Homo sapiens: one gene and its partners. The protein of the gene in region 2 interacts with the protein of the main gene of each other region in a pairwise test. Each region holds a gene or a part of one and is shown on either strand. Other genes may lie near its edges. The genes, in order: SNX20, TGFBR2, SNRNP35 and PTN.

What was found.
Region 1: the proteins of TGFBR2 (region 2) and SNX20 interact in binary tests that used the Homo sapiens proteins (3 or more experiments, as listed by UniProt).
Region 3: the proteins of TGFBR2 (region 2) and SNRNP35 interact in binary tests that used the Homo sapiens proteins (3 or more experiments, as listed by UniProt).
Region 4: the proteins of TGFBR2 (region 2) and PTN interact in binary tests that used the Homo sapiens proteins (3 or more experiments, as listed by UniProt).

What each region holds. Positions count from the first base shown.
Region 1 is NC_000016.10:50,678,199-50,685,647, reverse strand, and holds the start of SNX20 (sorting nexin-20), read left to right. Parts: upstream 1-4,335; 5' UTR 4,336-4,458; intron 4,459-7,449.
Region 2 is NC_000003.12:30,665,376-30,672,783, reverse strand, and holds part of TGFBR2 (TGF-beta receptor type-2 isoform B precursor), read right to left. Parts: intron 1,147-7,408; coding exon 347-1,146; intron 1-346. UniProt on the Homo sapiens protein: Transmembrane serine/threonine kinase forming with the TGF-beta type I serine/threonine kinase receptor, TGFBR1, the non-promiscuous receptor for the TGF-beta cytokines TGFB1, TGFB2 and TGFB3.
Region 3 is NC_000012.12:123,453,231-123,461,471, forward strand, and holds the start of SNRNP35 (U11/U12 small nuclear ribonucleoprotein 35 kDa protein), read left to right. Parts: upstream 1-4,908; 5' UTR 4,909-4,986; intron 4,987-6,473; exon of another isoform or gene 6,474-6,658; coding exon of another isoform or gene 6,659-6,670; intron 6,671-8,241.
Region 4 is NC_000007.14:137,333,648-137,341,055, forward strand, and holds part of PTN (pleiotrophin isoform 1 precursor), read right to left. Parts: intron 1-7,408.

The DNA of each region.
Region 1 (7,449 bases), on a different chromosome or scaffold from region 2:
CAGTTGTGGTTTGCTCTACCAGCGCTGAGAGGCACACCTGGGACCGATACACTCTTGTTGAATTTCTCAAAGAAGGCGTACCAGTGTTGCAGTTCCAAGCATGTCAGGCATCCAGAGCGGTAGTGAGGGGTAGCTTCTAGTACTCAATTGTTTGCTCAATGTAGAATGCTTTGGTGGTAAAAGGACATCATTTAATTTCATGTTGCAATTAGGGAAGCCAAAAATCAGACAGGGTGGTGGCCTGCCCAGAATCACACAATGAGTCAGGGCTGAGCTGCAGCCACAGCCTCGGTGACCACTTCTCTGCATTCACCCCGCCATTCATTCATGCACACAATGACTTACTGAGCACCCACTATGTGGCAGGCACTGTGCTGGGTGCTAGAGACACAGATAATGATACAGACAAAGTCCCTGCCATTGTGGCATTTGAGACAGGAACTGCACAAGTATACAAATAAGCAAAACAAGGACAGATCTCGACAGAGGGGTCAGAAGAAGGCTGCATGGAGGAGCGAAAGTGAAGCTGCTGCTTCATGAGATGAGATGAGATGATGAGATGAGATGAGATGAGATGAGATGAGATGAGATGAGATGAGATGAGATGAGATAAGCCAGAGATGGAAAAACCAAGCGGAGGGTATTTCCAGCTGAAGGAACTGCGAAAACAAAGGCACGTTTGAGCAACAGAGAGCAGTCTGGGTTGGCTGGTGTGTGGTAGGTGACACTGGGAGTGGACCGAGTGACAAACGGTAAGCGGCAGATCATGGAAGCCTCAGCAGAGAGTTCGGATTTACTCTGAATGTGGTGGGAGGCCACTGAAGGGTCCAAATAAGATGGAGAGGTGCTCTGATTTTGAATTCTAGGAGAGGCATCAGATTCTGAGACACTACTAGTATTTCCCCTTTCTCACTCCTGGTGCCTCGTGGTGACCCTCCTCGCCATCTGGCTTCAGCGCTGCAATGGAGGATGCCCACTCCTGTGTCCCCCGCATGACGATGGGACCTTGTCTGCCTGTTATGAACTGAGTATGTGGCCTCCAAGTTCATATAGTTCATATATTGAATTCCTAATGAAAAAGGTGAGGCCTTTAAGAGGTAATTAGGCCATGAGGTTAGAGATCCCTGAGCACTCTCTAGCCCTCATTCTGCCATGGGAGGATAGAACAAGAAGGCAGCCATCTGCAAACCAGGAATCAAACCCTCCCCATATACTGAATCTGTTAACACGTTGATCTTGGCCTTCCCAGCCTCCAAAACTGTGGGAAAGAGATGTCTGTTGTTTAGGCCGCCCAGTCTGCGGTGTGTTGCTACAGCAGCCCAAGCTAAGACACTACCTATGCCTTCTGCCTCCACCACAGAGAACTCTGGCTGCAGAGAAAAAGCAACATCCAACAGGTGGCCATGCGTGGCATCTTCCGGTCACTCTGGCTCAGCTGGGTCCTACCGACATAGGCCAGGCCCCTCTCCATCAGGGGGTTTCCAAGAAACGTCTCCTTTCCCCATAAGAGGAAGTGGCGGCAACCACACATTTTTCCCCTGTGGTTGCCTTCTGCAGCATGAGAGGCTCACAGGGCTGCAGAGAAAGGCTTAGAGTCCACCCTGGTGTCTTGCAGATTCCAGGCCTGGGCAGAGAGTAGGCGAGAAAACTGGAAAGTTACGGGACACAACCCAGGGAGGAGAGGGCATTCCAGCCTCACTGTATGCAGGGAGCCACACCACCAGGCCCTCTGCTGGGCAGGGGGAGGCGGAGATGACCGACCTATGGCCCCTGCACTTACGGGGTGCCCCAGCTAGCAGGCCAGAGGCACACCACTCATGGCACTCCTCGTGAGCTCTGCCCAGAGACAGACCTTTGCAGATGTGGAGGTTCTTAATGACAGTGACGGCACTGCAGAGAGGTGGAATTGCAGGGCCATGTCAATAAGCAAGGTCAATAGGTAAACAGGGACATTATAGAGCCTCCAATGAAAAAGACAAGCAGCAACGGTTTTAGAATAGTAAGAACTGCCAGCACTTGTACAGCTCGGAACAGTGTTGTTCTAAGTGTTTGGCTCATCTGAACTCCTCTTGAGGTTCACAAGCCTATGAGCTTGTTGCAGAAGCAAATACAGGAGAAACCTTCATGCCCTCCAAGGATGACACTGGCTCAAGGCGGAATGTTTTGGCACTAGGAGGACTTCATTAAATTTCATGTTGCAATTAGGAAAGTTGAAATTCAACCATATCAAAGGACTAATATGGTTCTTTAAAGTTGACAACTTCTATTCGTCACAAAACTCCATTAAGAGAGTACAAAATGCAAACTGCAGGATGGAAAAGGATATTGAGAAGCACATAAACCCAAATGAATACATAAAGAACACCTACAAACCATTAAAAATAATCAAGTCAATAATGAGCAATGACCTTGAACAGACACTTCATTGGAGAAGGTATAAGGATGGCAAATAAGCCCATGAAAAGATGCTCAACATCATTAGTCCTTAGGGAAATGCAACTTAAAACCTTGATGAGAGACCACTGCACATTAATGCAGTGGTACACTGAAAAACACTGACCAAACCAGACACAGTGGCTCACATTGGTAATCTCAGTACTTTGGGAGCCCAAGGCAGGAGGATTGCTTGGGGCCAGGAGTTCAAGACCAGCCTGGGCAACATAGTGGCCATGATGGTCTATCCCTCCAGAAACAAAAAAAATTTATTAGCCAAGCATGGTGACGTAACTGTAGTCTTAGCCACTCAGGAGGCTGAGGTGGGAGGATCATTTGAGCCCAGGAGTTCTAGGTTGCAGTCAGCTATGATGGTACCATTGCACTCCAGCCTGGGTGATAGAGCAAGACCCCATCTTTAAAATAATTATAATAATGACCATATCAAGTGCAGGTAAGAAGGTGGAGCACCTGGAATTCTCATATACTGCTGGTGGGAATACAAAATGGCACAGCCACTGTGGAAAATATTTGGCGTAATCTAGCACAGTTGAAGCTATCTATACTCTGAGACCCAGCAATTTCACCTCAGATAAGTACATGGACTTGGATAAATGTGTAAGAATATCATCAGTGGCATTGATCATGATGGCCACCCTAGGAACAACCCAAGTGTGCATCAAAAGACAAAACAAAAAATGACAAATGGTGATGTATTTAAATAATGAAGCAACAGAAAACCAAACACAGCATGTTCTCACTCATAAGTGGGAGTTGAACAGTGAGAACACATGGACACAGGGAGGGGAACATCACACGCTGGGGCCTGTCAGGGGTGGGGGCCAGGGGGAAGGAGAGCATTAAGACAAATACCTAATGCATGCAGGGCTTAAAACCTAGATGATGGGTTGATAGGTACAGCAAACCACCACGGCACATATATACCTATGTAACAAACCTGCAGGTTCTACACTGGTATCCCAGAACTTAAAGTAAAATAAATAATAATAATAATGTAGCAACACAACAATGGAAATGAAAAAAAGTATCTACACAGAAATGCATCAGTGAATCTTATACCCATAAATGTTGCATGAAAGAAGCAAGGCACTGGAGAATACACACAGTATGCATGGTTCAATTTATATAAGATTCACAGATGAGTAAAATGAAACTGAATTGTTTGGGGATCTCATAGGTGGTAAATTTCTAAGGAAAAGCCAAGAAGTAACCCCCATCTGAATCAGGACTGTGACTGCCTCTAATAGGGAGGAAGGGAATCATGGCTCAAAAAAAAACACATGGCAAACTTCTGGGCGAGCCAGCAAAGTTCTATTTTTTTTTTTTTTGTCTGATTTCTGTTTCTTGCCTTCAAGGCCACAAAGATGGGTGGGCATGAATCACACCACACTGCCCTGGGGTTTCGCTTCCCTGGGACTTTCTGTTGGTGGTGATGGATACAGCTTTGCTCAGAGAAAAGGCACCAGATGGAACTGTAATTCTACCCCACTGCTCTTCTATGTCAGTCACTGGCTCTGTGTCCCACCAGCTCTGTGATCCAAGCCTCGGTTTTCCCATCTGTTCAAGGGGCATGACGGCCCCCATCATGCCTAGCTCATAGAGTAGAATAATGAATGTTAAAGGGCTCTGGGAGCTAATGCCTGAATTCCAGAGATCAACGGGGACTCGAAGGACAGCCAGACCTCTGCAAGGCGGCAGGGAAAGTGAGGCTGAGCTAAATCCCACAGGGCTGGCCCCACACCGCCTTGCCCTTCCCTGCGCTACCCGGAAGAAGAGGTGGGTACAGCTGGCAGGCTGGCAGTTGAGTTCAATATACCATGTTTCACCAGCCAATGGGCTGGGGCGATCAGAAGCAGGTCACACAGCCTGTTTCCTGTTTTCAAACGGGGAACTTAGAAAGTGGCAGCCCCTCGGCTTGTCGCCGGAGCTGAGAACCAAGAGCTCGAAGGGGCCATATGACACTCCTCCCGGACCCCTGGACACACACAGCCCTGGAGACTGGAGGTCAGTATTTGATCCCAAGCTCAGCTGTCCTCTGCCTGCTGTGGCCTGAGTCCCCTTCTCCTGGGGCCCTGCCTGGCACCTGCTGGGGGCAGGGTGGGAGGGGGAAGAGTTAGTGACAGCCACTGTGTCTGGAGCTCTCCTTAGCACACTGAGGCAGAGGAAGGGACAGCTCCTGGACCTTCCATCACCTCCATTCCTTTTGAAATGCTAGGCGCTTGTACAACCCATCTTGGGCCTGGAGAATAAGTCACCACACCTGTGTTTCTCAAAAGAACAGTGTCAGGGAACCCCTGCCTCAGCACAGCCTTAGAGGACTCATGGAAAATGCAGAATCCAGGCCTGTTCAATGGCACCTTCCTATGTTAGCAGCCAGGAAACCTGCTCTTGGACAAGCCCCTGGGATCCCACCCCCACCCCACCAGGGGATTCTTACACACACTGGGTTGGGAGCCCCTGGCTTTGGCAAGGCTTCTCAGGTGAGCGTCCAGTTGTTGGAGGGTACCCACCCTTTCCCCAAGAGAGGCAGCCACACATCCAACATCCTGGGATCTCTGTCTCCCAGCGTGGGCCATGTGCTTTATTTCACCCCCTAGAGGCTCATCCCCCATGAAAAGTCCTCCGCAGGCCCTCAGAAAGATAGTGTGGCCTCTGTGTGCCCAGCAGAAGAAGGACTGGACTTGGCAGTCAGCTCTTGGAGAGGGGGTGGTTAGGACACCTGGGGACAGGAGGAGGAGAATGACTGTCTGTGCACACACGGCTGGAAGGCAGAGGAGGCTGGGAAGCTGCTCTGTCCCCTGGGCCAACTACAGGCCCCCAGGCCAACAGCAACAACACTTTTAGTATTTTGTTATAAAGTCAAGAAATCTTTGCTACAGAGGGTGAGGAGAGGGAAGGAAAGGGCCATGGAACCGTCTATGTGGCTATCCCCAGAGAGCTTTTAGAGTGACAGGATTGCTTTCCCATTTCACAGATGAGGAAACTGAGGCCTGGAGAGGGATGGGAAGCTACCCAAGGCCCCATGGATACACCAGTGCACAACTCTTTCCTTCCCCCTCCTCTTTAAATGGGTGACTCCCAATGAAACCTGTAAGAGACAACCATAAGGGAGCTGACTGTGGCTGCTGAATTTGATTTTATTCTAAGGCCTGGTTTTATAATCAGCTTTCTCAGTCTTTACTGGAGTGTCAAGCCGAGGCATCATTTCTAGGGTCTTACAGGGTCTCTGGGCCAATAGTGCCCTGCTTCTGACCTGGAGCCAGCTGCCTGGTCATGAAAGCAGATCTGCAAAGGCTGGGGCCCCTGAGGCCAAGGCCACTCGCCATCACCCATTTTACAGAAGTGCTGAGCATAGGAGTGCCCTGGGCCCCCAAGAATCCCAGCCACCAAGAATCACGTAAACCATCCACTGTCTCACTTAGGCACCAGTCAGAATGTAGGGAACCCACCCCTAGTCATCCATCATCTTATCAACAGGACGGGGCTTGTAGCCACATTTATCAGGTAGGGAAACTGAAGCCTAGAGATATTAAAGCACTTGCTTAAGGACACACGGTTGGTCAGGATGGAAGGCGATGTCTCCTGACTCCCTGACAGGCACAAGAGACAAGCGAGAGGTGCCCGTGACGGCATGCTCAAGAACGTGCAGCCCTGGGCCAGCCAGGCCCCTGCTCCGTGCCTCTGTTTGCCCATCTGTAAAAGGTGAGGTTGGATCGAGGGTCCCTGAGGGCCGCCCACTGGATGGCTGTGCAGAGCCAAACGGAGAAGGCCCCAGGGTTCCTTTCACCCGACACAGCAAGCACTTCCCCCTGAAGTGCAGGCTCCAGGCCCCAGCTGACCTCCCCTCTCCCAGGCCAGCGGCTCTCACCCCTGGAGCAAGGGACAGGCGCTGGCTGTGCTCAGGGACATGCATGACTCCCGCCCCCATCTGTGCTCAGGGGGTGCCAGGGAGGCACTGGCTCTATCTTTCTCTAGGCCGTAGTCAGCCCAGGGGTTCAGACCAAGAGCCCAGAATCCAACAGATCAGAGTTCAAGTCCCAGCTCTACCTCTATGTTCCACTGGCAGCTTCCTCAGGTCATTTGCACCTTCCTTGTCTTGAATTTCCATGCCTAACCAGTCAGTATACCAGCTACTCCCTCCAGCCGATCTAATGTTTTAATTGTCCCTTTCTCTAAGTTGTCTCAAACATTTGTAATTCTATTCCAATCCACCTTAATTTAGTCATTTATTTCACAAATATTTCTGGAAACATCTAGCACTTAACAGACACTAAAAGCGGGGGTACTACACAGTCCCTGGGATGGACAGGGCCCTGAGCTGAGGCTTCAGAGTCTGCCTGACTGAATCCTCACCCCAGCCTTGTGAACGTGGGTTCTGTTATTATCCCCAATTTATAGGAAACAGAAGCACAGAGAAGTTGAGTCACTTGCCAGCTACCAGGTCATCCCTTCCACTTATCCGGGTCACAGACAGAGTTATTATGTAAACCAGATCCCAGCTGCCTGTTCTCCCTCCCTGAGTAAGGTGGAGAGAATTCTGAAGTCAGCCCAGCCTGGGTCTGTATCCTGCCCACCACTCACCAGCTCCTCATCTTTGGCAACTCTAAGTCTCAGTTCCCTTATCATAAAAGGGAGATGTAAACAGTCCTGAGTGCAGACAGTGTTCAGGTTAGTGCAAGAGTGTGTGCTGGGTGTGAAGTGCACAGCCAGCACGTCACAAGCACTGGAGACAAATTCAGCTTTGCTTGTTGCGCACACTCACCAGCTGCGTGACTTTAGACCTCAGTTTTCTCATCTGTTATGTGGTGGTAATGATAGACTTTTGTGAGCATTAAACTAGATTAGGGGCTATGGAGAACCTAGATGGGTATGAAGTGGGTATAATAAGCTATCAGTTAATTTTGCTGATAGATAGATTATTGATTGATTGATCGATAGAAGATTCATACCAGTATCTACCTGCTCTGAACACTGACCTTTCTTTTTTTCTTTTTG
Region 2 (7,408 bases):
CTGAGTACAACCATAAGAGAGGGAAAAAATAGAGGTAAAGTACTAACAGTGCTTGAAACAAAGAAAAAACATTTGCTGGAAGAGAAATGAGGATTGATCCAGGAGGAAAAAATGTGCTGAACTGGGAAGGATTTGAAGATAGGAGGAGAAATGCTGTCCATTAGCAAAAATGCTCAGGCAGGACAGAGCAGAGTATGCTCAAGGCAGACTCCATACTTTGGCTAGATTCCCTAGACCAGTGTCCAGAGTACAGGGCTGTTTGAGATAAGAGCCAGGAGATATGGATCAAGAGGTAGGGTGAGGCCAGGCTCAAGGTAAAGGGGATCTAGCACTAGCTCTAACTTACCTGCCCACTGTTAGCCAGGTCATCCACAGACAGAGTAGGGTCCAGACGCAGGGAAAGCCCAAAGTCACACAGGCAGCAGGTTAGGTCGTTCTTCACGAGGATATTGGAGCTCTTGAGGTCCCTGTGCACGATGGGCATCTTGGGCCTCCCACATGGAGTGTGATCACTGTGGAGGTGAGCAATCCCCCGGGCGAGGGAGCTGCCCAGCTTGCGCAGGTCCTCCCAGCTGATGACATGCCGCGTCAGGTACTCCTGTAGGTTGCCCTTGGCGTGGAAGGCGGTGATCAGCCAGTATTGTTTCCCCAACTCCGTCTTCCGCTCCTCAGCCGTCAGGAACTGGAGTATGTTCTCATGCTTCAGATTGATGTCTGAGAAGATGTCCTTCTCTGTCTTCCAAGAGGCATACTCCTCATAGGGAAAGATCTTGACTGCCACTGTCTCAAACTGCTCTGAAGTGTTCTGCTTCAGCTTGGCCTTATAGACCTCAGCAAAGCGACCTTTCCCCACCAGGGTGTCCAGCTCAATGGGCAGCAGCTCTGTGTTGTGGTTGATGTTGTTGGCACACGTGGAGCTGATGTCAGAGCGGTCATCTTCCAGGATGATGGCACAGTGCTCGCTGAACTCCATGAGCTTCCGCGTCTTGCCGGTTTCCCAGGTTGAACTCAGCTTCTGCTGCCGGTTAACGCGGTAGCAGTAGAAGATGATGATGACAGATATGGCAACTCCCAGTGGTGGCAGGAGGCTGATGCCTGTCACTTGAAATATGACTAGCAACAAGTCAGGATTGCTGGTGTTATATTCTGATGGGGAAACAAAACAAGGAGAGAAGGAGTTGGATGTGGTAGGTAAGTACTGTCAGGAAGTGGGTTCATGCCTGAGCATCTATAGATTTTAGCATCTGCATAGTTTTTGTAGATACGATATTGTTAATTTTTATTTCAGGGATGCAAGTGCATGCTCGTTCAGCCTTCCCTGCCTCTGGCCATCTGTTCGTCATCCCCTGCTCTTCCTTCAAACTTCAGCTTAAATGTCACTGCTTAAGAGAGGCCTAGAAAAACTTGGAAAACTGTCTTATTTTATACATTTTCATAGCACCTTATACTTTTCCTAGGTAACAATTCAGTACAACTTAAACTAAATGAACTATGACTCTACCTCTTGATTTCACATCTGTCTTTCCCTACTCTTGCCATCCCCCACGGACAGGGAACTCCATGCTGGAAGGTACCATGTCTTCTTCACTACTGTAAACTGCACTTAGCACACAGCAGGTCCTCAATATTGCCAAATAAAAAGACAAACCATTTACTGAGTGTTATCTAAGCTCAGGACATTGGGAACATGAAAAAAAATGACACAGCTTCTGCCTTCAAAAAATCTGCATGTATGACATCTGGTAAAAACACAGAGCGTGCCACAGTTTGCACCAAAATCTTTGCTCTTTTTCAAACTCCAACTTGTTCTGCTCTGATCAGCATTCAGGCTACCCTGGGCCCATGGGTGACAGGGAGAGGAGTCCATGGAAAGGATCTCTTTGGACAGTTATCTTACATCCACCCAACATTCCTCTTTTCAGTGTGCATACGAATTGTAGTTTCATGGAACTGAAATATTTAATAGCAACAATGGAAACATGGCCGCAAAGGTAAAACAAGTTAAAAATGGAAATGCTGCAGTTTTTTGACTTGGAATTCTGAAGCAGGCCCCTGTGGGCTGACAAGGAGAGTCCTTAGCACCAGATATCTAACTATAATATCTTGTGCCTCAAACTTTGTTTCATGTGCTGGCCTTGTTGGCTCTGGTGAAATAGTTTTCCTTTTTGGAAGAAGGACATGAATAGAAACAGACAGTGGACAGGAGAGAGCAAAAGGCAGCTCTAGTTCACTGGGAGCTTGTGCTGGGCTGCTTTCATTGGGCAAACATGCAGAATTCTATTGCTTTATGTGTCATCCATCTGCCCTCCAAAGTACCCATTAATGAGCAGGCCTCATGCTCAGATCCTAGAATCATTCATTAAATATATCACTACTGAGTGTCTATGATGGGCATGGCACTGCCCTCAGAGAGTACCCAGTAGAGGACTTAGGGCATATATACAAGTAAGCAATATATGGCATCTGGGATAGGGGCTAAATGTACAATGTAATCTATATATTAGTGGAATGTGGAAAAGCTTAGAGAAACATGGAAGGCACAGTAGCAAAAAACTGCCTTTAAGTTGGTCTCTGAAGAATGGGAAAAGTCAGTGATGAGTGGAAAGAGTGCTATGTTAAGGAGAAAGAATATATGATCTACTTAAGGAAGAGCAATTATCCCATACTGACCACTCTGCACCTGCGGAATAGAAAGGAAAAAAATGGGTAGGTGGTATGGAACCAAACTCCGTGTCAGAAAAGGATCTTTTGATTATTCATTTGTCAGTTTTCACCTACAGTAGGTGTTTAAAGAGAAAAAAAAAAGTGATGAGAATATAGTCCAGGTAGAATGAGGATATAACCAAATTCTCTCAAGGGGAACCCATTACCTAAATGATACTGATAAAGGAGTTAAGAAGAAATTACTTGGGCAGATAGTAAGGGTATGGAAGTCCTCGGTAAGGTGTTTCTTTTTAATGAAAAGCAGCCCCAAATCATTTTCTAACAAAGAGCAGCCTGTAAAGTTGAGCTTCAGACATAGACAGGCAAGCTGGGAGCTTGCACGGGTGAATGCCAGCAGGAACTAAGGACATGTTCAAGATGGCAGCTCCATCTTCCCTTCTCTTTGTCAGCCATGTGTACAACAAAGAACAGACCAGATGGTGCTGATCAACTGGAAAGCCCATTTGCATAATAAGATTAGGGTGGGGTGACCAGTCTTCCCCATGCACTATGTAAACGTCATACCTGATTGAACCAATCTGTGAGCCCTATGTAAATCAGACACCGCCTCTTCAAACGGGACTATAAAATCCAGCACATTCACCACTGGCCCGTCCTTTCCGCTTGGAGACTCCTTTCTCTACAGAGAGAATTGTTTCTCTTTCTCTTCTCTTCTGCCTATTAAACCTCCACTCCTAAACTCCTCATGTGTGTTCATATCCTAAATTTTCCTGGCTCATGATGATGAACCCCAGGTTATATACCCCAGTCTACATAGCTACTTCAGCATCTGATACTTTCTTTTTTTTTTCTCGAGATGGAGTCTTGCTCTGTTACCCAGGCAGCAGTGCAATGGCACGATCTCTGCTCACTGCAACCTTGCCTCCTGGGTTCAAGCCATTCTCCTGCCTTAGCCTCTATGCCCAGCTTTTTTTTTTTTTTTTTTTTTTTTTTTTTTTGTATTTTTAGTGGAGACGGGGTTTCACCATGTTGGCCAGGCTGGTCTTGAACTCCTGACCTTGTGATCTGCCCGCCTTGGCCTCCAAAAGTGCTGGGATTACAGGCGTGAGCCACTGCGCTTGGCCCAGCATCTGAAACTTTCATCTAACGAAACAGTGAGAAATGAAGCTGGTACATATCCATTTTTAAGGTTTATGTGTAATATGATTACTTGTTCTTAAGGTAAGTCTGAGTGGAAATGCCAACTTCCACTGACTATATATTCTAGATGAAAATCTTGGGTCTAGTAACCAGAGAAGTAACCCCAAGATATCAGAATTCCAGCAACCAAGAGGGAAAAAAAAAATCACCATTTTTTGGAAAGATATATGAATGCATTTTAAAAGTATAGGGAAAGTGAGAAAATTTGGTGATTGATCCTTAAAAACATAAATTCTTACACTGGGAGGCTTGGATTGGGACAAAGAACAGGCAAGAGTAGGGCAGAAATGGGGTGGGACAAAGCAATTACAGAATGATTGAATGCAAAAGAAAAAAAAGATGCTCTTGTGGAGATGTATGGACTGTCCCTGTTGTACAGCAAACAAAATTAAGGGGGCAGATGAACACAACACAAATTCAAACACAACAGCCGATCCAGCAGTCGGCATTTCCACTTAGGCTTACCACTTCCACAATGCTCCCTGCCTGAAACTCCACCTCTATTATATGTGGTATCCAATGAATGTGTTTGCTTGAAGTACCCACTTGTCTCCGGTCTCTGTGTCTGTAACTACATGGAATGTCTTATAATCAGAAATCCACTTGATTATCTGATTGCTTCTCTCCTGACAAAGCAGGGTAGTGGCCAGGTCTGTTTTGATCATCATGATATACACAGCACCTGGGGCAGAATGGGGCAATTTATGGTATTCAACAAACGTTTGTTTTAGAAGCTGAATGATTACTTACGTGGAATGATACTTCTCAAATTTTTTATATTTTACAGCAAGGTTTGACAAACTATGGCTCAGAAGTCCATGGCCTGCTTTTGTATAGTCCTATGACCTAAGAATGATTTCCATCCCCATTTTTAAAGAGTTGTTTAAAAAACAATAAAACTAAGAGGTTCATGCAACAGAGATCTTATCTGGCCCAGAAAGCCTAAAATATTTACTATCTGGCCCTTCACAGAAAAACTTTGCTGACCCCTGTTCTAGAGGTGTTATTTTAATAACCTCATTGGCAGAATCTGGAGAGACTTCACTTTGGCCAAATGTGAATATGTAGTCAATTTTTTTTCACATATGAGAAATACAATTTGAAAAAATTTAAATATTAACTGCATAATTACTTAGCTTTGTCCTTAATTCACTAAAACGTCCAGATGAAATGTTGATTCATCATGGATAATTTTATTTTACAATTCCTAAATATCTATAAAAACAGTCGTATTTGCTAATTTCAATTCCTTTTTAGCCTAAAGGAAACACAAAAACAGAAATCCCCTTAAGTTTATGTGTGGCACTGACTGAAGAAGATTCTAGAAATCCCCAGTTCAATGTCAGAAACCAAAGTTTTACTTTCTCCTAAAATTTCCTGTTATTTCTTTAGAAGACTTACACTTAAAAAATTTGAGGGGGAGGAATTCTTGAATAACATCTGTCAATCTTGAAACTTCAAAGAGGTGGTGAAAAACTCTAACAATAGCAACCAGGGCTGGAAGGAAGCTTTGGGATGTGGCTTTATCTAAACAGGAGCCACCCACACCCTCTGGCAGTATTAACCCTTGGGTTGCTACTAGAAAACCCAACAGCTGTTGGTGTAGGTACAAGCCAGCATCTCCTTTAGTCGAAGACCAACAGGAAATGCTTCTTTTCATCAGCCGCCAGTTACAGAGAAACTCATAAACTGAACACTTACTAAGTTCCTGGCTGTGTGCTAAGGATTTTATAGAATATTTAAATTTAATTGATAGAAAAACCCTATGAGGTAGAAACTGCTATTATTATAAACCCCATTTTACAGATAGGGAAGCTAAAGATCAGACAGTTTAAGTAATTTTCCCAGATGATAAATTTAGGCAACAGCAAAGCTGGTATTTACAATGAGCATTGCCTGATTGGAGAGACTTCTGATCTCAACCCCATACCTGATCTCTAAACTTCATATTGGTGAGAGCCAACTAAGAATGGCAATGACCTTAGGCTGGGTGTGGTGGCTCACACCTGAAATCCTAGCACTTTGGCGGGAGAATCACTTGAGCCTAGGAGTTTGAGACTAGCCTGGGCAACATAGTGAGACTGTCTCTACACAAACTTAAAAAAAAAAAAAATTAGCCAGACACTGTGGTGCTTCCTGTAGTCCCAGCTATTACGGTGGCTGAGGCAGGAGGATTACTTTACTTGAGGCAGGAGTTCAAGGCGGCAGCACACTATGATCCTGCCACTGCATTCCAGCCTGGGTAACAGAGCAAGACCCTGTGTTTGTGCGGGCGGGGATGGGGGGGTAGGGGTTGCGGGGGAGGGGAAGAATGACTTTATATAAGCTCCCAATTTGATAAAGTGTTTTTCTTTAGTGTAGCCTGGACTAAGTGATTTTACAGCCATCCACCGACTGACATTGGCAATTCTTGTATAATGTGTCTAAAGGAGTATATTTTGGGTATGGGGATTATATTCCTTTGTTCTGAACTAAGAACCACAGTTTAGTAGTGTCTCTGTAAATATGCATCTTTTTCCTGCCAGGAAATAAAAAGTTTTATGTGAAGGAGAACCCCCAAATCTTTTTCTTTTCTCAGAGCCTATTCTCATGGCCTAGATCTTAGCAGAGCTCAAAACATAATTGTTGCACTATTGGGACCTTCCATGAATAGTAATAACATTGAACCAGATATAGCTCTGAAGGGCATTAAAAATAAGGGTGGAATTTATCCAAGGCCCATAAAAAAATGAGGCTATAATAGTAAACATTTTTAGCCTGGGTTCCATAAATAGAGTTCAGTGGGTCTGTGAATTTGAATGGGCAAAAATTGCATCTTTTTTTATTTTCTCTAACCTTTAATTAAAAATTAATATTTCCTAGTATCAGCTGTACCTATGAGTTTGTTGTTGCAGACGTCTCAGCATGTGACTTACGCTCACCATTTAGACATTTCAATTGTTTAGATCTGCTGCTATTGTTATTTAAAGCATTATTATAGAAACATATATTACTATAACACAAATTCATTTTTAAAATATTTGGTCATTGTATTTCAATGTAATTGGTTTTCTTTGAAATACTCCATGTTCTATTTTATGCATTTAAAAAACATCACAGTGAGAAGGGGTCCACAGGCTTCCCTACTTCAAGAAGTCCATGGCACAGACACACAAAAAGGGAAGCTCCCTTGGCAGAGTGAAGGCATTTGGGCTCTAGTCTCTTTTCCAGGACTTGCTAGAGCAGGAATTTTGAGATTGATGGGTTTCTCTAGGAAGTTGGTAACTAGTGCCAATGGGAGATCTGCCTGGCTTGATTTGTTGTGCTGCACATGGACAACTGTGGATGCTGTCGGAGCTTCTGTGGAGTGGGAAGGGAGCTCCGCAGTGTAGAATTTGAGGAGAAGCCCTCCTTTGAAATCTTGTAACAATAAGAAAGATAACTCATATACGATGTGCTTTGTTGGGTTAGGCACCGGACAATTTATTTTGTAAACATGATCTACTTTATTTCTCCAATAACCCTATGTATGAGTTAGATTCTCTTACCCCCGTTTTACAGAGGA
Region 3 (8,241 bases), on a different chromosome or scaffold from region 2:
CTGAGAAGCTAAGCCTGTATTTATTTATTTAAAACTTTAAGTTTTTTGTAGACATGGGATTTTGCTAAGTTTCCCAGGCTGGTCTTGAATGCCTGCACTCAAGTGATCCTCCTGCTTTGGCGTGAGCCACCGTGCCTGGTCTAATTCTTTTTTTTGTTTTGTTTTTCTGTAGAAATGAGTTCTCACTATGTTGCCTAGGCATGCTCTACTTTCTGGGGAGAGGAGTTATCTCCATAAGTTATTTGCAATTTTGCGTGGAAGATTTGCCTCTTCTCCCCACTTTATTTATTCAATCACTTATTTATATCAGTAGGGACTGGTGGATATTTATTTATTTATTTTGAGATGGAGTTTCGCTCTTGTTATCCAGGCTGGAGTGCAATGGCGGGATCTCGGCTCACTGCAACCTCCGCCTTCCGGGTTCAAGTGATTCTCCTGCCTCAGCCTTCTGAGTAGCTGGGATTACAGGTGCCCGCCACCACGCCCTGCTAATTTTGTATTTTTAGTAGAGACGGGGTTTCTCCATGTTGGTCAGGCTGGTCTTGAACTCCCGACCTCAGATGATCCGCCTGCCTTGGTTTCCCAATGTGCTGGGATTACAGGCATGAGCCACTGTGCCTGGCATTTTTTTTTGTTTTGTTTTTCCTGAGACGGAGTTTCGCTTTTGTCGCTCAGGCTGGAGTGCAGTGGCACGATCTCTGCTCACTGCAACTCCCTGCTCCCCGGTTCAGGCGATTCTCCTGCCTCAGCCTCCTGAGTAGCTGAGATTACAGGCACCCTCCACCACGCCCGGCTAATTTTTTGTATTTTTAGTAGAGACAGGGTTTCATCATGTTGGCCAGTCTGGCCTCGAACTCCTGACCTCACATGATCCACCCTCCTTGGCCTCCCAAAGTGCAGGGATTACAGGTGGGAGCCACCGCACCTGGCCTGATATTTATTTTATTATTATTATTTTTTGAGACACAGTCTCACTCTGTTGCCCAGACTGGAGTGCAGTGGCGCAATCTCTGCTTACTGCAACCTCTGCCTCCCAGGTTCAAGCGATTCTCCTGCCTCAGCCCTGTGAGTAGCTGGAATTAACAGGCGACTGCCACCATGCCCGGCTAAGTTTTGTATTTTTAGTAGAGACGGGGTTTCACCATGTTAGCCAGGCTGGTCTCAAACTCCTTGAGATCAGGGTGGTCCGTCTGCCTCGGCCTCCCAAAGTGCTGGGATTACAGACGTGAACCACCGTGCCTGGCGGATATTTATTTTATGTTTTGGGTTATAATCCAGTACCACTTAATTTACAGTATTTTGTTGCTCATACTGTTTCCACTCTGGCCATTAGGAGTCCTTTCAGTTGGTTCAGCACTCCCTGTGACATCATCATCATTGGTGGGGTGTTTCATTTTTAGCACTACCTTACTTTCTGGTACTACAAGTTGCTTCAAGATCATCTTGTGTATTTCTATTTATTTATTTATTTACTGAGACAGAGTCTCGCTCTGTTGCCCAGGCTGGAGTGCAGTGGCGCGATCTCAGCTCCCTGCAACCTCTGCCTCACAGGTTCAAGCGATTCTCCTGCCTCAGCCTCCCGATTAGCTGGGATTACAGGTGCCTGCCACCACGCCTGGCTAATTTTTGTATTTTTAGTAGAGACGGGGTTTTGCCATGTTGGCCAGGCTGGTCTCAAACTCCTGACCTCAGGTGATCCGCGCCCACCTCGGCCTCCCAAAGTGTGGGATTACAGGTGTGAGCCACCGCACCTGGCCTATTTATTTATGTTTTGAAACAGAGTCTTGCTCTGTCGTCCAGGCTGGAGTGCAGTGGGGCAATCTCTGCTCATCACAACCTCAGCCTCCTGGGTTCTAGTGATCCTTGCACCTCAGGGTCCCAAGTAGCTGGGACCACAGGCGTGTGCCATCACACCTGGCTAATTTTTGTATTTTTATTAGATACCCGGTTTTGCCATATTGCCTAGGCTTGTCTTGGACTCCTGACCTCAAGCGATCTGCCTGCCTCGGCCTCCCAAAGTGCTGGGATTACAGGCGTGAGCCACCATGACTGGGCGAATTTTTTATTTTTTATTTTTTTGAGACAGGGTCTCGTTCCAGCTGGAGTGTGATAGCACCATCTCAGTTTACTGCAGCCTCAAGCTCCTGGGCTCAAGCGATCCTCCCACCTCAGCCTCCTGAGATGCTGGGAGTACAGGCGTGCACCATCAGGCCTGGCTAATTTTATACTTTTTGTAGAGACGGGGTTTCACCATGTTGCCCAGACTGGTCTTGAACTCCTGAGTTCAAGTGATCCACCCGCCTCAGCCTCCCAAAGTGCTGGAATTACAGGTGTGAGCCACTGCACCCAGGCTTCTTGTGTATTTTTTTGTCCCAGTTCTAGAGTCAGCTATTTCTCCAAGGAGCACTGGTTACTTTCATTGGAGAATGATATCAGAAACCAAGATCCGGGTGCTAGGTTATGCTTATTGCTACCAGGGTACACAGACATTTTAATGTATGTGTAACATAAAATTTACCTTTTCCACTGTACTTTCATTTATTTATTTATTTATTTTTGAGACGGAGTTTGCTCTGTCGCCCAGGCTGGAGTGCAGTGGCGTGATCTTGGCTCACTGCAACCTCCGCCTCCTGGGTTCAAGTGATTCTCCTGCCTCAGCTTCCTGAGTAGCTGGGATTACAGGCACGCGCTATGACACCTGGCTAATTTTTGTATTTTTAGTAGAGATGGGGTTTCACCATGTTGGCGTGGCTGGTCTTGAACTTCTGGCCTCAAGTAATCTGCCTTCCTTGGTCTCCCAAAGTGCTGAGATTATAGGCGTAAGCCAACGTGCCTGGTTCTTTTTTTTTTTTTTTTTTTTTTTTTTGAGATGCAGTCTCGCTGTGTCGCCTAGGCTGGAGTACCATGGCGCAATCTCGGCTCACTGCAACCTCTGACTCCCAGGTTCAAGCTATTCTCCTGCCTCAGCCTCCCAAGTAGCTGGGATTACAGGTGCCCGCCAGCACACCCAGCTAATTTTTGTATTTTTAGTAGAGATGCGGTTTCACTATGTTGGCCAGGCTGGTCTTGATCTCCTCACCTCGTGATCCTCCCAACTTGGCCTCCCAGTGTGCTGGGATTACAGGCCTTAGCCTCCTCGCCCGGCCAGTCTGTTTTAACTATTAAATAACATTAGGTAGATTCACATTGTTGTGAAACCATCTGTACTATCTATTTCCAGAACTTCTTCATCATCTCAAATTGAACCTCTGTATCTGTTAAACAATACCTCGCCATCTTCCTAACACCCACAGCAGCCCCTGATAACCACTGCTGTACTTTCCAACCATGAATTTGACTATCCTAGGTCCCTCATATAAGTGGAACCATACAGTATTTGTCCTTATGCTTCTTTCACTTAGCATGGTTCATCCATGAACTACGTTCATTCATGATGTTGTAGCAATTAGAATTTCATTTCTTTTTAAGGAGAAATAGTATTCCATTGCATGTACTGTACATACCACGTGTGTGTGTGTGTGTGTGTGTGTGTGTGTGTGTGTGTGTGTGTGTGTGTGTTTAAAAGCATAGGGGTCAGCCAGGTGTGGTGGCTCACGCCTGTAATCCCAGCACTTTGGGAGGCCAAGGCAGGCAGATCACTTGAGATCGGGAGTTCAAGACCAGCCTGACCAACATGGAGAAACCCCATCTCTACTAAAAATACAAAATTAGCCGGGCATGGTGGCACATGCCTGTAATCCCAGCTACTCGGAAGGCTGTCAGGAGAATTGCTTGAACCTGGGAGGCGGAGGTTGCGGTCAGCCGAGATCGTGCCATTGCACTCCAATATGGGCAACAAGAGTGAAACTCTGTCTCAAACAAAACAAAACAAAAACAAACAAACAAACAACAACATAGGGGTCTTGCTCTGTTGCCCAGGCTGACAGGCTGAACTTGAACTCCTGGCCTCAAGCCTCACGACTCAGCCTCCCTAGTAGCTGAAACTGCAGATGGCCTCCACTGACAGTGGCTACCATATATTTTCAAACATAAAATTTTAAGCTATAGATTTTTCTTTTTTTTGAGACGGACTTTCACTCTTGTTGTTCAGGCTGGAGTGCAATGGCACCATCTCAGTTCATCGAAACCTCTGCCTCCCGGGTTCAAGTGATTCTCCTGCCTCAGCCTCCTGAGTGGCTGGGATTACAGGCACATGACACCATGTCCAGCTAATTTTGTATTTTTAGTAGAGAAGGGGTTTCTCCATGTTGCTCAGGCTGGTCTCGAACTCCGAACCTCAGGTGATCCGCCCGCCTCGGCCTCCCGAAGTGCTGGGATTACAGGCGTGAGGCATGCCACCTGGCCTTTTTTTTTTTTTTTTTTTTTATAAAGAAATTGGGGCCGGGCGCGATGGCTCACGCCTGTAATCCCAGCACTTTGGGAGGCCGAGGCGGGCGGATCACTTGAGGTCAGAAGTTCGAGACCAGCCTGGCCAACATGGCAAAACCCTGTCTCTACTAAAAATACAAAAAATAGCCGGGCGTGGTGGCGGGCGCCAGTAATCCCAGCTACGCGGGAGGCTGAGGCAGGAAAATCACTTGAACCCGGGAGGCGGAGGTTGCAGTGAGCCGAGTTCGCACCACTGCACTCCAGCCTGGGCGACAGAGGGAGTCTCCGTCTCAAGAAAAAATAATAAATAAGAATAAATAAATAATAAAGTAAAATGTCCCAGGTAACTGCATATTCGATAGTCTTTCTTTCAACTTAGTTGTTGAATTAGCAATTTTTCTCTTAAAAAAATTTTTTTTTAGCTTATTGTCTTCGGAGATGATAACACCCTCGTTGCGTGGGAGTAAAATTTTAAAGGTAAAACAAACAGGAAACGAGCGTCGGCGGCGAATCTGCTGCTACCAATGTAAAGGTCAGGCCGAGGCCGGCGCGGAGAATCTGCTGTCGCCTGCAGCTGCTCGCCTGTCTCCGTCGGAAGGGAGCCCAAGCTTTGCAGAGGTGAGTGGAAGCGGCTTGGAAGGAGCGGGCCCCACGCCGGAGAGAAGGAAGAGGGAGTGCGGCCCAGACGCTGTGCCCGCGCTTGTGTGGGGCGCCATGTTGAAACCTGGCAAAGGGGACGACATTCTGGGTTGCGTTGCGGGGAGTGGGGACGAGAGCTGGATTGGAAGGATGGCGCCTTACTCCCTGCGGCCCCCAGAGAAGGAGAGGGGCGGGGGAGCGGCCTCGAGGGTTGGCGGCCAGGCTGCAGGCTGGATGGGAAGGATAGGCTTTTCCACAGAAACTTAGGTGTTTGCCTCCGAGGCCCACTGCGCATGCCCTGGAGGGCTCTGTGGGTTCCGCCTTCAGTTTTGCTTTTCACAGGAGGGGCAAAGTCTTTTTTTTTTTTTTTTCCTTTTTGAGACAGTCTTGCTCTGTCGCCCGGGCTGGAGTGCAGTGGTGCGATCTCGGTTCACTGCAACCTCCGCCTCCTGGGTTCAAGCGATTCCACTGCCTCAGCTTCCCGAGTAGCTGAGACTACAGGCGCCCGCCACCACGCCCTGCTAATTTTTTGTATTTTACTGGAGACGGGGTTTCACCATGTTAGCCAGGATGGTCTCGATCTCCTGTCCTCGTGATCCACCCGCCTCGGCCTCCCAAAGTGCTGGGATTACAGCCGTCAGCCACCGTGCCCGGCCAGGAGGGGCAGAGTCTTACCCCGAAGACCCAGGAAGGAGAGGCTTCATTTATTTTTTTGTTTTTCCCCAGAGACAGGGAGTCGCCCAGGCTGGAGAGCGGTGGCGCGATCTCGGCTCACTGCAGCGTCGACATTTCGGGTCAAGCAGTCCTCCCGCCTCAGCCTCTCAAGTATCTGGGACCACAGGCGCGACCCCACGCCCGGAGAATTGATTATTGATTGATTGATTGAAACGGGGTCTCACTTTGTTGCCCAGGCTGGTCTCGAATTTCTGGGCTCAAGCGATCCTCCAGCCTCGGCCTCTCAAAGTGCTGGTATTACAGGCGTGAGCCAGCGCGTGCCTGGCCAAAAATTTTCTAAATTTGTATAATAATTTATAATTGTAATGCATTTTTATAGACACCATATGATCTAATCTTCACAAAAACCTAGTGAAGTGACATTTAGCTACATTTCACAATAAGAATCCTGAAGCTCAAAATTTACTGACCTCAAATAATCCACCCGCCTTGGCCTCCCAAAGTGCTGGGATTACAGGCATGAGCCACCGCGCCCTGGCCCCCACCATTCATTTCGGCTCTCATCCCCTGTTGATGAGTAAAATGAGAATGAGGCCCAGGCGCGGTGGTTCACGCCTGTAATCCCAGCACTTTGGGAGGCTGAGGCAGGCGGGTCATCTGACATCAGGAGTTTGAGACCAGCTTGGCCAACATGGTGAAATCCTGTCTGTACTAAAAATGCAAAAATTAGCTGGGCGTGGTGGTGTGTGTCTGTAATCCCAGCTACTCGGGAGGCTGAGGCAGGAGAATCACTTGAACCTGGGAGGCAGAGGTTGCAGTGAGCCGAGATTGGCCATTGCACTCCAGCCTGGGTGACAGAGTGAGACTTTGTCTCGAGTAAAAAAAGAGAATGTAAAAATCGAAAGAGATTGTTGTAGGAAATCTCAACCTAATGCTGCCGGGGAGGAAGTGCACCTAGAAAGATTAATGAGAAACAATGAAACCAGCTGTTAGTATCTATAGAAGCATGCAGATGAGAGAGAGAACAAAATCCATGCTTATCCGTTTGTAATTCTCCTCCATTTTAATTTGAAGAAGTCTTAAAGTTTTGAACAGGAGCTCTGTGTACAATAATATCAGTTTTATTTGGTAGATCCTTGTGACTCCTGACTTCAAATGATCCGCTCATCTTGGCCTCCTCAAGTGCTAGGATTGCTGGCGTGAGCCACTGCACCGGGCCCCTTGTGACTTTTTAACGTTGAATGGGGAGGGGTTCTTTTCCTTCAGGAGAGGAGGGGTGGGTCTCAGCCTCAGACACCCAGAATACTGGTTTGTGTGTTTTCTTTTTCCTATCTTTATCTCCAAAACCTTATATTTTATGAAAAGCATCAGAGGAAACGATTAAGAGCTTTAGCTCTGGAGTCCACACTGCCCCTGGTTCTAACTCCTCCACTGGGCTACTTCTTAGCTTTAGGATTTGGGGCACAGGCTGCCTTTTTGTGTCTGACCTTTTTCATCTGAAAAGGCAATAATAATATAGTACCTAAGTCCTGGTATTGTTGAGAAGTGAGAGGAGTTAAGAGGTTAGTACAGGCTGGGTTCGCTGGCTCACATGTGTAATCCCAGCACTTTGGGAGGCTGAGGCAGAAGGATAGCTCATGCCCAGGAGTTCAAGATCAGCCTATGCAATATAGTGAGACCCCATCTCTACAAAAAAAAAAAAAAAAAAAAAAGCTGGGTATGGTGGCGCATAGTGAGTAATTCCAGGTACTCAGGAGGCTAGGGTGGGAGAGGCTGCAGTGAGCCATGACTGTGCCACTGTACTCCAGTCTGGGCAACAGAGCAAGACCCTGTCTCAAAAAAAATTCAAGCGATTCTCCTGCCTCAGCCTTCTGTAGCTGGGATTACAGGCATGCACCACCATGCCTGGGTAATTTTGTATTTTCAATAGAGACGGGGTTACTCCATGTTGGTCAGGCTAGTCTCGAACTCCCGACTTCAGGCAATCTGCCCACTTTTGCCTCCCAAAGTGCTGGGATTCAGGCGTGAGCTACTGCGCCTGGCCTTTTTTTTTTTTTTTTTTTTTTTTTTAAAAACAGAGACAGGGTCTCACCATGTTTCCCATGTTGCCCAGGCTAGTCTCGAACTCCTGGGCTCAAGGGATCCTCCCATTTTGGCCTCTCAAAGTGCTGGGATTACAGGCGTGAGCCACCACGCCCAGCCTCTTCTTTCTTTTTTTTTTGAGACGGAGTCTCGCTCTGTCGCCCAGGCTGGAGTGCAATGGCGGGATCTCAGCTCACTGCAAGCTCTGCCTCCCGGGTTCACGCCATTCTCCTGCCTCAGCCTCCCGAGTAGCTGGGACTACAGGCGCCCACCACTACGCCTGGCTAATTTTTTTTTTTTTTTTTGTATTTTTAGTAGAGACGGGGTTTCACTGTGTTAGCCAGGATGGTCTCAATCTCCTGACCTCGTGATCTGCCCGCCTCGGCCTCCCAAAGTGCTGGGATTACAGGCATGAGCCACCGCGCCCGGCTGCCTCTTCTTTTTTTCACGTGGAGAAATTCCAGCCACGAGAGAAGA
Region 4 (7,408 bases), on a different chromosome or scaffold from region 2:
TTCATATTAAGAATGACTTTCTTCACAGAATTGGAAAAAACTACTTTAAAGTTCATATGGAACCAAAAAAGAGCCTGCATCGCCAAGTCAATTCTAAGCCAAAAGAACAAAGCTGGAGGCATCACGCTACCTGACTTCAAACTATACTACAAGCCTACAGTAACCAAAACAGCATGGTACTGGTACCAAAACAGAGATATAGATCAACGGAACAGAACAGAGCCCTCAGAAATAACACCACATATCTATAACTATCTGATCTTTGACAAACCTGAGAAAAACAAGCAATGGGGAAAGGATTCCCTATTTAATAAATGGTGCTGGGAAAACTGGCTAGCCATATGTAGAAAGCTGAAACTGGATCCCTTCCTTACACCTCATACAAAAATTAATTCAAGACGGATTAAAGACTTAAACGCTAGACCTAAAACCATAAAAACCCTAGAAGAAAACTTAGGCAATACCATTCAGGACATAGGCATGGGCAAGGACTTCATGTCTAAAACACCAAAAGCAATGGCAACAAAAGACAAAATTGACAAATGGGATCTAATTAAACTAAAGAGCTTCTGCACAGCAAAAGAAACTACCATCAGAGTGAACAGGCAACCCACAAAATGGGAGAAAATTTTCACAACCTACTCATCTGACAAAGGGCTAATATCCAGAATCTACAATGAACTCAAACAAATTTACAAGAAAATAACAAACAACCCCATCAAAAAGTGGGCGAAGGACATGAACAGACACTTCTCAAAAGAAGACATTTATGCAGCCAAAAAACACATGAAAAAATGCTCACCATCACTGGCCATCAGAGAAATGCAAATCAAAACCACAATGAGATACCATCTCACACCAGTTAGAATGGCAATCATTAAAAAGTCAGGAAACAACAGGTGCTGGAGAGGATGTGGAGAAATAGGAACACTTTTACACTGTTGATGGGACTGTAAACTAGTTCAACCATTGTGGAAGTCAGTGTGGCGATTCCTCAGGGATCTAGAACTAGAAATACCATTTGACCCAGCCATCCCATTACTGGGTATATACCCAAAGGACTATAAATCATGCTGCTATAAAGACACATGCACATGTATGTTTATCGCGGCACTATTCACAATAGCAAAGACTTGGAACCAATCCAAATGTCCAACAATGATAGACTGGATTAAGAAAATGTGGCAAATATATACCATGGAATACTATGCAGCCATAAAAAATGATGAGTTCATGTCCTTTGTAGGGACATGGATGAAATTGGAAATCATCATTCTCAGTAAACTATCGCAAGGACAAAAAACCAAACACTACATGTTCTCACTCATAGGTGAGAATTGAACAATGGGAACACATGGACACAGGAAGGGGAACATCACACTCTGGGGACTGTTGTGGGGTGGGGGGAGGGGGGAGGGATGGCATTAGGAGATATACCTAATGCTAAATGACGAGTTGATGGGTGCAGCACACCAGCATGGCACATGTATACATATGCAACTAACCTGCACATTGTGCACATGTACCCTAAAACTTAAAGTATAATAATAATAAAAAAAAAAGAATGAAGTTTTCTAAACACTTTTCATTAGCTTTTAAAGCAAATGAAGAAGGCAACATTTGGATCACTTACACCCTCTCCGAGAAAGACCCCAGCAGAAGCACTGGTAAGGAGGCCCAAGTGCAACATCTGGCCAGGGGCTTTTTACACTTAAGGGAACTTCAGTGAAGTCAATAGCAAATCAGGTGGTGTCTGCAATTTTCTTTCATAAATAATCATACATTGTAAATATTATTTGGTCACAAAGATGTAAGTTTTAGAAGCTTTTGCATATAACATATTGACAATGATCCTCATCATTTTTATTAAGCTATGGACATCATGACTGGAGCATTCTGATTTGTCTCCTGTTCCCTCAAGTTTGTTGAATTAAACTGTTGTGGCTTGCTACTCAAAGAGAGGTCGCCAAGCTAGCAGTACTGCAGTCACCTGGGAGCTTGGCAGAAAAGCAGACTCTGAGATTTCATTGGAGACCTACTGAATTTTGGCAAAGACCCTGGGTGACTGGTATGAACATGAAAGTTTGAGAAGCACAGTTATCCAGCTATCATGTAAATGAACTGCTGTTAGCCAATTACTAAGGCTTATATTTAGTGAGAATAACCAATTAAAAAATGTGACATGTAGCTTTTAAGACACTTCAGAAGGAAATATAACATAATCTGAGGTAAAAGAAAGCATGCCTGTTTCAGTTCAGCCTCATTTAAGATGTCTTCTCGCTTTTTTTTTTTTTTTTTAGTATGACTCATTTCTTTTTCTTCATTCCTGTCGCACATCTTACCTCCTCCTCACTTTGTGAGTCAAACTTACCTTCAAGCAACTTAGGCAATCTCTGTGTGTCCTGAGAAAATGACAATGACAATAGCAGGATTGGGAAACCAGAAAGGCAGAACTTGCCCCACTGACTTTATTAAGTTCAGTTCATGTTCAGTATAACAGTTTAGAGCTTACAGATGTTGCGTCGTGACCATTGACATTTACCACCAACCTATGAGGTTGGCAAAACAAGTAACATCATCATCATTTCCCACTTAGAGCTAAAAAACCTAAGATTTCAGAAGATTCAGTGGCACATCCAGCAGCCCATACCAAACAACAGGCGGACTGTGGTGAGATGCTGGTTCCTGACTCCAAACCTTAACTCCTTCCCTGGACTGAAGCCTCTATCAGCAGGGGTCAGAGAGAATGTGGTTATGAGCATCACTAAGGTCAGCAATAAAGTGCCTGTCTCTTGGATTGGGAGTCTTCTGTATGCAAAATGCTCTCCTATACCTTATGGGAAGGGATAAGGTCAAAGAGTCTGCATCGGAGACTTTGCCTGCCCAACCCCCAGGCCTTGAGCATGATCACATGCTCCGTATGTTTTCTTCCAGAAGAAAGGATTTTCAATCTGCATTTAGAGAGAAGGAAGAAAATGGTATGAGCATGTGGAGGGGCGAGGCCTTTCAAGAAGCATGGAATTCCACCTAGGATTTTGCTTGTATGTTTGTTGCAGATGCCAAGTGGGCATGAGAAAGAAAAGCAATTCAGGAGGGGGAAGAAGTGAGGACTTGCATCTGGTGCTGCTTCACCATGATCATCATTTTCACCATCCTGCTCAAACACTCCCAGCAATCAGACTCTATGTTCAGTACTTCACATTGATTTTCTCAATTACTACTCAGACGTCAATCCTGGAAGGTAGGTATGTGCTCCCATGTTAGAGATGAAAACACTGAAGTAAGAAAGACCACAATATTTGCTCACGGTCACAGAGCTACTAAGAAGTGCAGTGGTTTATACCTCAGTATTTTGGACCTTGGAGCTCAAATATTGAGCGATTAAGGCTACTGTTTCTAATGTTTCATCCGTATCCACATGCCCTGTCGTATGTCCAGGGTCCTTGATTCCACCTCTTAAATCAGAACTGCTGAAGATGGGCTCCAGGCAGCTGGAACCTACACATGACGCTAGTTAATCTGATAAACATTGAAGACAGGGAACTGCTGCTGTAGGTTATTTGACCTCTAACTGTACATACATTGGATTTGGGGTTTGACATGAGAGACAAATGGGAGATAAAATCTATTTATTAGCCTAAGAAAGAGATGGCATTATATTACAGAGGAATAAACTCAAACTAGGAATTTTAAGACTTTTGTTTTCATATCTGTATGTCATTGAATATGGCCCCCTTAACTTCTCTAAGCCTGCATTTCTGTATCAATTTTTTAAAAATCCCACTCAATCTACCTGAGTAGAGTTACAAAAATATGATGAAAAAATAAATGTGAAACATTTTTAAAAACAGGCCTTATAGCTACATAGAAGTTATAATGAAAATAATGCTTCAAATTACTAGCTTTGTCACTTTGAATAATATGGTTTGTTAAAGAAGAGGTAAGTAAGGTTTTCTCCATTCTGGAGGTAGTCTTGAATCGGCAACTATGAAAAGTTTAAAATTATCAAGGTGAAATATGATTAGGAAGACACTGTAGAGAACCAGCAAGCCTATATGACATTTGTAATGAAGGGAGTGAAGGAAAGAGAGTGGGAGAAGTTTCTGGAGGTTCAAAGTTGAGAATGGGAATGCTTGGGCTTAAACAGGAAATTGGCACCAGGTTGTTTGGTAAGGCAAGGGGATTAGGCATAGAACACAGATGGTCAAGGTGGGTGGAACAACATGGGCAAAGAGAATGAATGGCATTTAGAGCTGCCTATTTTCTCACTCATTTGCCATCTTCAATGGTTCTATGCTAAATATGCTAGGGTTCTTGAGAGAATGAGAGACAGCCCTTGCCTTAATAGGGTGCACAGGTTGGATGGGGTGGGGCTGGTGTCAAATGGTGAGAAAGGAGGAGCTGAAGTCACTATAAGGGGTGATGGGGAGACTTCGAAGACAAGGGAAGAAATATAGCTCCACCTAGAGGGGGCATTTGCCTTGGAAAACCTTTGGTGCCTTCAATTTCCGACTCAAGATTTCACCCAAATTCCACAGCTGAAGTACAAGGATTTGCCTTCTTTCCCTTCATGTATATGTTTTCATTAAAGGACACTCTTCTCTTCTGGTATAAATTTTCCTGAAAAGGACATCTACAGGGAGTGCCATGTCTTAAAAATTATATTGATTCTAAATAAACTCAGTCTGAATTCTTAAGTTGTCACTTCCAATAATTTGTTTCTGCTACGTTATGTGGCAAATGTGAAATGAAAACACGAAGGAATCAGGAGTTCAATTTCCCTTCCAGAATAAACAGCATTAAAGGAACAAACAGACATAATGCTTTTGAAATAGACGTTGCGTACCATTTAGCCTTTTGTGAGCTCCACTTTCCTTTTTCTCATAAAAATGTGATCCCTTTGTCATTGGAACTGCTTAGGGCAACAATTGTACATATCTTCCTCTAACCTGTGTTGTAGTAATTAGTGTTTTAATGTTCTTACATATATATTGAGTAGATCATTAGCTGCTTGAAGACATATTTATTTGTCCTGTTTCCCTCATCACACTACCTACCATATAGTATGTCAGTCACTATGCGTAAAAGTCTGGTAGGGATAAAAATAAAATAACAGGAAGTCCTTTACTTCAATCTCCTCCTCCAAATAGAATTGTGCCTGAATGATTTCCTTCAGTATTCATTGAAAAAATATTAAAAATGTGAGTCCAGAGCTCATTAGAGAGAATCTTCCTTCAATTCTCTTCAGATCTGAGAATTTTCCTTGTGAAGGAGTTAAAGCTCAAAGAAGAGTTGTGACAATACTAAAGCATTTGGAGAGGAGAGAGGAAGGCGGGAAACTGAAATATTTGGAAATAAATGTACACATTTGGAAGACAAGAAAAAAAAAAGCAAAACAAAACATGAAAAAAGGAGTGCCCAAAGAAATTAGGAAAACATTAAGACAATAACATATCAAGGAGGTTACAGTATGAGATAATCATAAAATGTTGGGATTAGCAATCTGTGACTTTTAAAGCATCTTTTCCAGAGATGGGTGAGGGTATAATGGATTTTAATTGAGATCTCCTTTAAATACATTTCTAATAAAGAATTTCACAAGTTCACACCACGTACCAAACACAAAGTATTAGATATTGTGAAACCATAGAGATAGACACCATGTTCTATTTCTTAAACATGCTACATTGTCCAGCACAATGTAGTATTAGGCATCCAACATACGTACAATAAATATTGTTAAATTGGCTGGCCACAGGAGCAAGAAAAATTGTATTGTTGGAGTAGGACCCCGAGACGATGTGATGGACATGAGTAACTCCAGCTGCGCCTCTACATTGATGTTGGGAAACTGAGAAGAGAATGAGGTCAACATTGCAGTGATGAAAATGTTGCCTGACCCTTAGGCAGGGTCTTGAATCAAAAAAAAAAAAAAAAATGGGGGAAAAATGCCATTGAATCAGTAGAGAGGGCACTGGTGTTGAAAACATCAGCTAGGAAGGTCCAAGCTTCCAAGAATGCCAACATATGGGCAGGCATTCCTGGTACATCCGTACATAGAGAAATGTATGCCATCATAGCAAGAGGGAATTGGGCAAGACGTTCTGGGACCTGTTGGGTGGGAAATAGTGGCAACCAAATTAATGGAGAAATGAGAGAAAAGAAGGAGAAATAGGTAAATGTAAAAGCAGGAAGAAAAGGGAGCAAAGGGTTAGAGACAGAATGCTATTTGTGTTTTAAAATTATGTTTTAGCTTTTGCTAAGAGCAATTCTTAGAATTAAGAGCCCAATTATCAGTTACTATGAGTCACTTTTTTCAAGATTAATATACAGCGCTTGATTTTTTGTTACACTATGTGTGAAGTTGAAAAAAATCTAAGACTTCTATTTTTAGAAAACTGGATATGATTTTTTTCTGTTTGAGATATCACTTTATCTCAACCCACTCTGAAAAAATGGTTCAATAAATAAAGCCTAGAAAAATGAATTAAATTTTATCCCTAAAAATATCTCAAACATGAAGGAGTCATTGTATTCCTTGTCCACCCTGAAGAAATAGAGATTTGTGGTGAATGTGATCTACATAATTAAGTCCACAATATTCCCATATTTATAATACCCTCTGATAGTGTTCCATCATAGCTACCCTTTTAAGATACTGTTTTAATTTCTTATTTACTAAATGCCAAAATAGAAAGAAAAAGAGGTTTGTTATATTTTACAATCTAGAAATATTGTAATGACACCATGAAAACTATGCCGCACACTAGACTGGCTTGAAGTGGATGGAAAAATAGCCCAGTGGGTGGAAACTTGAATTGTCCATAAACATCAGAAGGAAAAACAACTTTCCACGAGGCCATGGCCCAAATTCCACTTAAGCCAATTGACTCTGGATGGAAAAAAGCAAGCCCAGCTCATAAAAAGAAGGTTCATATCTGAGTATCATCTTACTTCGCCTCCCACAGCAGTGACATGACCTTGTGCCAGAAGGAGGCAAAAACTCTTCGACTATTCATTTAGAACAGAAGCCAGAGCTAAAAACATTCCTCACCCTTATGGAGAAGCCCAACTCAACATCACTAGCAAAGCTATGGAACAAAGGCCATTGGAGAGCTCCCACTCAGCCTCATGCTCCAGAGAAAAGCACATCTCAAACTGGGCTGAGGTGCACTCAGGTGTGGAGGATGTTTGCACTCATCACATTGGGTGGTCTCAGTCTGGACACCTCCTTCCTGAGAGAAGTCAAGAACAACTCCCCATATCATTATGCCGCCATATTAAAAAGCATAATTCTTTAGAGAACTGGAATTTGTATTCTGAATTCTGACTTCAGGCCCTCAATCTATTGTTAATTTATCACACCATTTTCAACGAGCCGGGTAAACTCGATTTTGTGGGAAATTTT